Regions from separate parts of the Homo sapiens genome. Here region 2 is linked to region 1. The links come from fine-mapping of genetic effects on gene expression. Tissue or cell type: cerebral cortex. Region 1 holds a variant in brackets; the other region holds the start of a gene. All regions are shown on one strand. Distances are between the middles of the regions.

Region 1 (2,711 bases):
CGTAAGTGGGGAAACTGAGGCTGGGCCTAGCACCAGATCACTCATGTTGAAACCTAGGTTTGAACTGGGTCTCTGAATCCCCATCCAGAGCTCACTGCCTTAAGGCTGAGGTGCCTGTGAGTGTCTGAGGACCCTTACTATGAGACAGTGTTATCGCTGACTTACAGTCTGGGTAAAGAAGGTGAATGCAGTCAGAGGAGTAGATTCAGGTGTCAGACATTTGCATAAAATACCAATTGCTCCTCATGTTGGGGAGGTAATTCACAAGCTTGAATCTCTAAAAGGCTGCATCTGGTGGAGGGCGGGGCTATGTGTCTGTGCACGTCTGGTCTTTGGAGTTCTTATTCAGCAAATATTGATTGCAAGCCCACCATGTGCCAGGCATCATGCCTGGGGCTTGGGATCCAGAGATGAAGAGACAGTCAACCAAGTCCATCAGGCTCTGCCAACCCCTGTAGTGTGAGTGGTGGTTGGAGCACGTGTTATACCCCCAAAAGGTGGGCTTGGCCAAGCCCTTCCACTTACCAGCCATGTGTCCTTCTGGATGGCAGTTTCCTCATCTGCAAAATGTGTGTAGCCCTAAGACCTGTCACCCAGGACCATTTGGGAGGTCAGCTGTTGTTTTGCAGGTGAAAAGATCCATCTGGTCTCTGGGCCTGGCACTCTATCTATAAAATGAGGCTCTACTCCAGCATGTACCCACGGTGTGCTCTGGGTAGTAAACTGTGGTGGTTTAGCACTTTGCCTTTGGGTCTGACAGTCCTGGATTCAAATCCAGACTCTGCCCTCTACTGTGTAACCTGGTGCATGTCACTTAACCTCTGTGGAACCCAGTATTCTCAACTATTAAATGAGGATGATAATAGTAGTAATCATAGTAGTACCTAGCTCAGACTGTTGGTGTAAAAATTAAATGAGCTAATTAAAATTAAAAAGTAAAGTGTTTTGCACAGAGACACTCCTAGTAAGCCCTGAAGAAATGAGAGCTATGCTTTTGATTATTAATATTCTTATAATCCAAAGGATGATGCAGGATTTTTTAAATCTTTCCACATGTATGTTTTTGGACCAGTCCAAAAAAGAATTGGAAACACACTTATGCCGCATAAAGACAGAGTTATGAGGAACTATAAAAACAAAATAAAACCTTTG[G/T]AGAATCAACTGCAAAGACATGTATTCTGTTTTTATTATAGTTCTGAGCCCAACAGTGTCTCACCAGGTGACTACCTGAGATATCCAACATCATATGTCCACCAGAGGGTGGGGAACACTCAGCCCCTTTTTATCAACACCTTCACTGTCCAGCCAGCCCCTAACTGGCCCCTTTCTGTCTGAAGGAGGTGGCTGAGTCTCTGGGCCGGACTCTCCGCTCCTCCCAGCCGCCTCTGCCTATCCATCCCATGGCCACCTGAGCCGCTCTCCACACTCTTGAACCCAGAGCCAAGACACACAAGTGCTGAGTCTCATCAGTAACTGCAATCTCATGAAAGCACTCTTGGGCCTCAGTCACCTTGAAGAGCAGGAAAGGCTCTGAGGGGACATTCATTCCACCCATCATCTCAGGTTCCAGTTTGCTTTAAAGGAAACTGAGGCATCGTAAAAGTTAAAGACATGTGGAGGATCATACCAGAAGTTGAGAGCCCAGCCAATCTAAGTGCTGGGACTTTCACAGTTGTCAGGGGGCATTACAGCTGTATATTCAAAGCCTCAACTGTATCTTGCAATCACCTGGCACAGCTACAGTGCCCAGGCCACACCCTGGACCAATTAAATCAGAATCTCTGGGAATGAGATCCAGGCATCAGTATCAGATAGCCAAGCTTATATACTCCTGCATTAAAGTGAGAAGGCCCCCATGTGAACACTAAATGCCTTAATTCACATTATTTTTGCACGGTTCTCAAACCTACTCTTGCCCAGCCACATCCTGAAGATTCTGATGTAATTTGCCATGCATCAGGACCCTTCAAAACTCCCAGGTGACTCCAACAAGCAGCTAAGGCTGAGAACCACTGTGTTCATCTACCACCTTCATTTAACTTTAAAACTGTATTTACTCTTTAAGTAAAATCATAATATTTAATTGCAGAAAAGAAAAGAAAAAAGTACCTGTTCAGCTGAGATGCAATCCATTGCATGTTAATCTGTATTCACATTCCAGGAAATAGAAGCATTTGTAGTTACAGGAATTTTTATCTGTGGTTTTACATCTTTACACACAGGTGTATAGACTTGCTTATGTGTCAGTCCGTTACTGCAATGTGCCAATTAAGACATTTATTGAGTTTGATTTGGTATAAGTAATTATGAGTTATAAAAGATCATTCTGAATCAACAACGTAATAAATAACCATCTTTAATGTAATAGAATATAAGTTTAGTTAGAGTCATGAAACCTTCTGTCTCAGCACATGGTTCCTATAAACCGAAAAAGACAAAAGCATTTGGTGAGTAGCTGTCAGCTGAAGAAAATGTCTGGAAAGGGACTTTCCCTCAAATCAGACGGAAATTCCTGCTCTCCCTTTTTTTTTTTTTAAGCAAGAGTACCTAAAATTCCAAAAAGTCCTATACCCCTTTATTCACCTTATAAAGAAGTCTGTGGAATAAGCCCCCTTCCCTCACCAACCACCCAACCGCTTTTCTCAAGGGGAGACCCTAAACCCAGTCGCAGAGAGCACATTTTGAATAAGCAAAGTGGAGATCTCACTGAC
Region 2 (2,761 bases), 73 kb before region 1:
ACTTAATTACCTGAGTGCAGATACAATGTCATACACTTTATTTCCCCTTCTTCAAGTCACACTGACATTGGATTTCCAGTTAAACATCCCTTGTTTGGCACAGTGAAGATCTCACAGAGGGCAAGGGATGGAATTATACAAAAGAGAAGAGTCTACGGACTTTTGCAAACATTTTCAAAGTTCCTAGACCTCCAAGAAAGTGCTTGGTTATACACTTTCTAGTACTTAGAGACCAGAGCAAGTTTCTAGGACTTTATAATATACATACTTTGTATTCATTTTATCTGTGGCTATAGCCTTAATCTTGTTTCACCTCTGTTTTCTCGACTACTTCGAATACGTGCAAACCTGACATCTTGTGGAGCCTTCTAAATTGCTTTAAATTCTTTGTGGAACAAAATAGAATATAATCAATAAACATTTATGAGATTAATCCATATGAAACTGCTGTTTCAAAATGGTTTTAAAAACCATTAATGTCACATATTTATAGTACTTGTCTAAATACACTTTAGTGCTTAACTGCCCCATAATTCAAGCTCCTGAGGATGTGCCAGTCCATGTGGAAGGATTATAAGCTAGAGAGGCGGGAGATCTGGATTCTAATCCCAGCTCTGCTACTAAGTACCTGAGTAATTTTGGGCAAGCATCATTTTGCCAAACAAGTAGAATAACCCCAGTCCTGCCTACTTAACAACATTGTTATAAGGATCAAATGGTAGGCAATATGTCCACACTCTCTATAAAGTCCTGTTAAAAAATCTAAGAGGCTATTACACACTGAACTAAGCTCATCCAGAATTCCTCCCACTGAGCCCCGCTCTGTGCCCAGTCCCTTTGGAGTGTGCTGAGGGAAGTGTTCACCACCAATTCTCCTTCTCTTCTAATTACCTGCTCCTTCCTTTCAGCCCCTAACACCCAACCACAATTCCCAGTTTGCCAGTCTTTCCACACATATGATCTCCTTGGCCACCCTCCCCTGACACTTTTGCAAGGAAAGCATTATCAAGTATTTACAGATAGTTAAAATCTGAAGTTCAGACACATTTAGTAATTTTGTCTAAGGGCACACGTTTTTAAGTGCTACAGCTTTGATTTAAACTCTGTTCCTCTGATCCCAAGTTCAGAGCTATTTCACGCAGGGAATTCCACTCAAGCACATCCTCCCACCACTGCAATCTGGCAGCGTTTAAGAGCGCAGCCATACCATTTGCTAGTTCCATAAACCTGGACAAGTTACTCGGCCTCTCTTGCTTCAGTTTTCTCATCTGTAAAATGGGGATACTCATAGGACACAAATTTGTGGTGCACTGGCTTAGCACGGGGCCTTGGCACATGGTAAGCGCTTAATAAATGCTAGATTTTTAAAGAAGTTTGGGTACACCTTCCGAAATCCGGGGAGGCCACACAGTTTGCCTGTAGTTTTCGCGGAAGCTTGGGAGATATCTTTACACTCCGCCTCTTCCTTCTGCAGTCACGGGAAGCAGTTAGAAGCAGATCAGAAATCGAACACGTTTGCTTTTGCGATTCGAGAGCCCTTTCTGGCGCGGAGCTAGGGGCGGTGTTACGTAGCTGCCCTGAACTGAGAGCAGCGTTGGCCGGGGGCTAGGGAGCCGGGCTGTTCCACGCTCACTGTGCGCCTCGGGCGGCGGGGCTCGGGCTCTGTCCGAGGTGCTGAACTCCGGGGCTCCGGCCGCGCCGGCAGAGTGTGCCAGCGTCCATTATTGCCAGTGTCTGTGGGCATCTTCCAGAAGGCCGAGCATGGGGGTCAGGTGAAACCAGGGCGGTAAGTGCTTCTCCCATCATTTCTCAGAAATGCTTAGGTGCCTACTTTTTACAATTTCGTGCACATTTTCAGGATCATAACCTCTCACCGCCAGTTCCTCACAGGTTTCTGCAAAAACTGACGACCTTTCTTCCCCTTCAGTCCCTGCAAAAATCCAGACACCTATCACCCAGCCCCGCTCCGCAACCATTTCCTACAAGAATCCAGGCCCCTACGCATCTCATCCCCACGCGTCAATGCAAAAATAAAAAATGTTAAATCCGCCTTCCATTCCCGTCTCCCACAATTTCCTGTGATAAAAGCAAGCTGTCTCCTACCAGTTCCCCACTCCTGCCTGTGGCTAAACAGCATGGACCGACTTCTCGGGAGCTCGAGGTCCCCACCCGGGTGACCAATGCAGACCCCTGGGGGTGCGCTTACCTGGTGGGGACAATCGCCGAGCGAGGCCACCTGGGTCCAGGCTATAGGTAGTGTCATTATTATTCCCAAAACAAAATCAGGGGGCGTCCAGCACCCCTACCTGCAGCTGCGGGTTGGCTGCCAGAGGGCACTGCCAGACTGAACCAGCGCCGGGAGCTGGGGCTACCCCGGGCCCCGCGGGTCCTGTTGAGTCACTTGCCCAGAACTTCTTCAAGGTTCGTGAATAAAACCTCTGCGTCAGTTCCTTCAAATCGGTCCACCGCTCCTCCAAGTTGCGGTGGGAGCAGGGGAGTTTTGGGTTTGGTTTGGTTTGGTTTGGTTTTAAGAAAAAGAAAGAAGCATGAAAGAAAGATAGGAATCGCCCCCGGTTCCGCGCTGCGGGTGTGCAGGTCTCTGCGCAGCCCCAGACCTCCGGCTTGGTCTTCGGCCGGCTGTGCTGGCTGACGACGCGCTGCTGCCCGCTGGCGCCGAGAGCAGCTCTCCAGCCGCGACGGGCGAGGGTTGTGTGGGTGTGCGAGCTGCGAGGAAGGAGGAAGGAGGGGGCCGCGGGGGTGG

Which allele goes with the higher level. Alleles are on the strand shown, and positions count from the first base shown. SD is a standard deviation of normalised expression in the study named.
In carriers of allele G in region 1, the expression in cerebral cortex of the gene that starts at base 1,490 in region 2 tends to be higher than with T alone (small effect, 0.16 SD a copy in GTEx).

Evidence for each region. PIP is the estimated chance that this variant, and not a neighbour inherited with it, causes the effect.
Region 2: ANKRD34C-AS1 starts here. The variant in region 1 is fine-mapped to the expression of ANKRD34C-AS1 in cerebral cortex (GTEx, PIP 0.98). The same link has a PIP of 0.9 or more in cerebellum.

What each region holds. Positions count from the first base shown.
Region 1 is chr15:79,210,044-79,212,754 of GRCh38, reverse strand. The region is part of intron 1 of ANKRD34C-AS1 (ANKRD34C antisense RNA 1); the gene reads left to right. Among named protein-coding and RNA genes, the nearest start is that of MIR184, 1.6 kb to the right of the region's middle. The variant G/T (reference allele first, on the strand shown) is at 1,153.
Region 2 is chr15:79,282,674-79,285,434 of GRCh38, reverse strand. ANKRD34C-AS1 (ANKRD34C antisense RNA 1) reads left to right here and starts at 1,490. Exons shown (of 2, transcript NR_038997.1): 1 at 1,490-1,786. ANKRD34C (ankyrin repeat domain 34C) reads right to left here and starts at 2,713. Exons shown (of 2, transcript NM_001146341.2): 1 at 2,207-2,713. RefSeq lists a silencer at 2,389-2,587 and an enhancer at 2,239-2,761.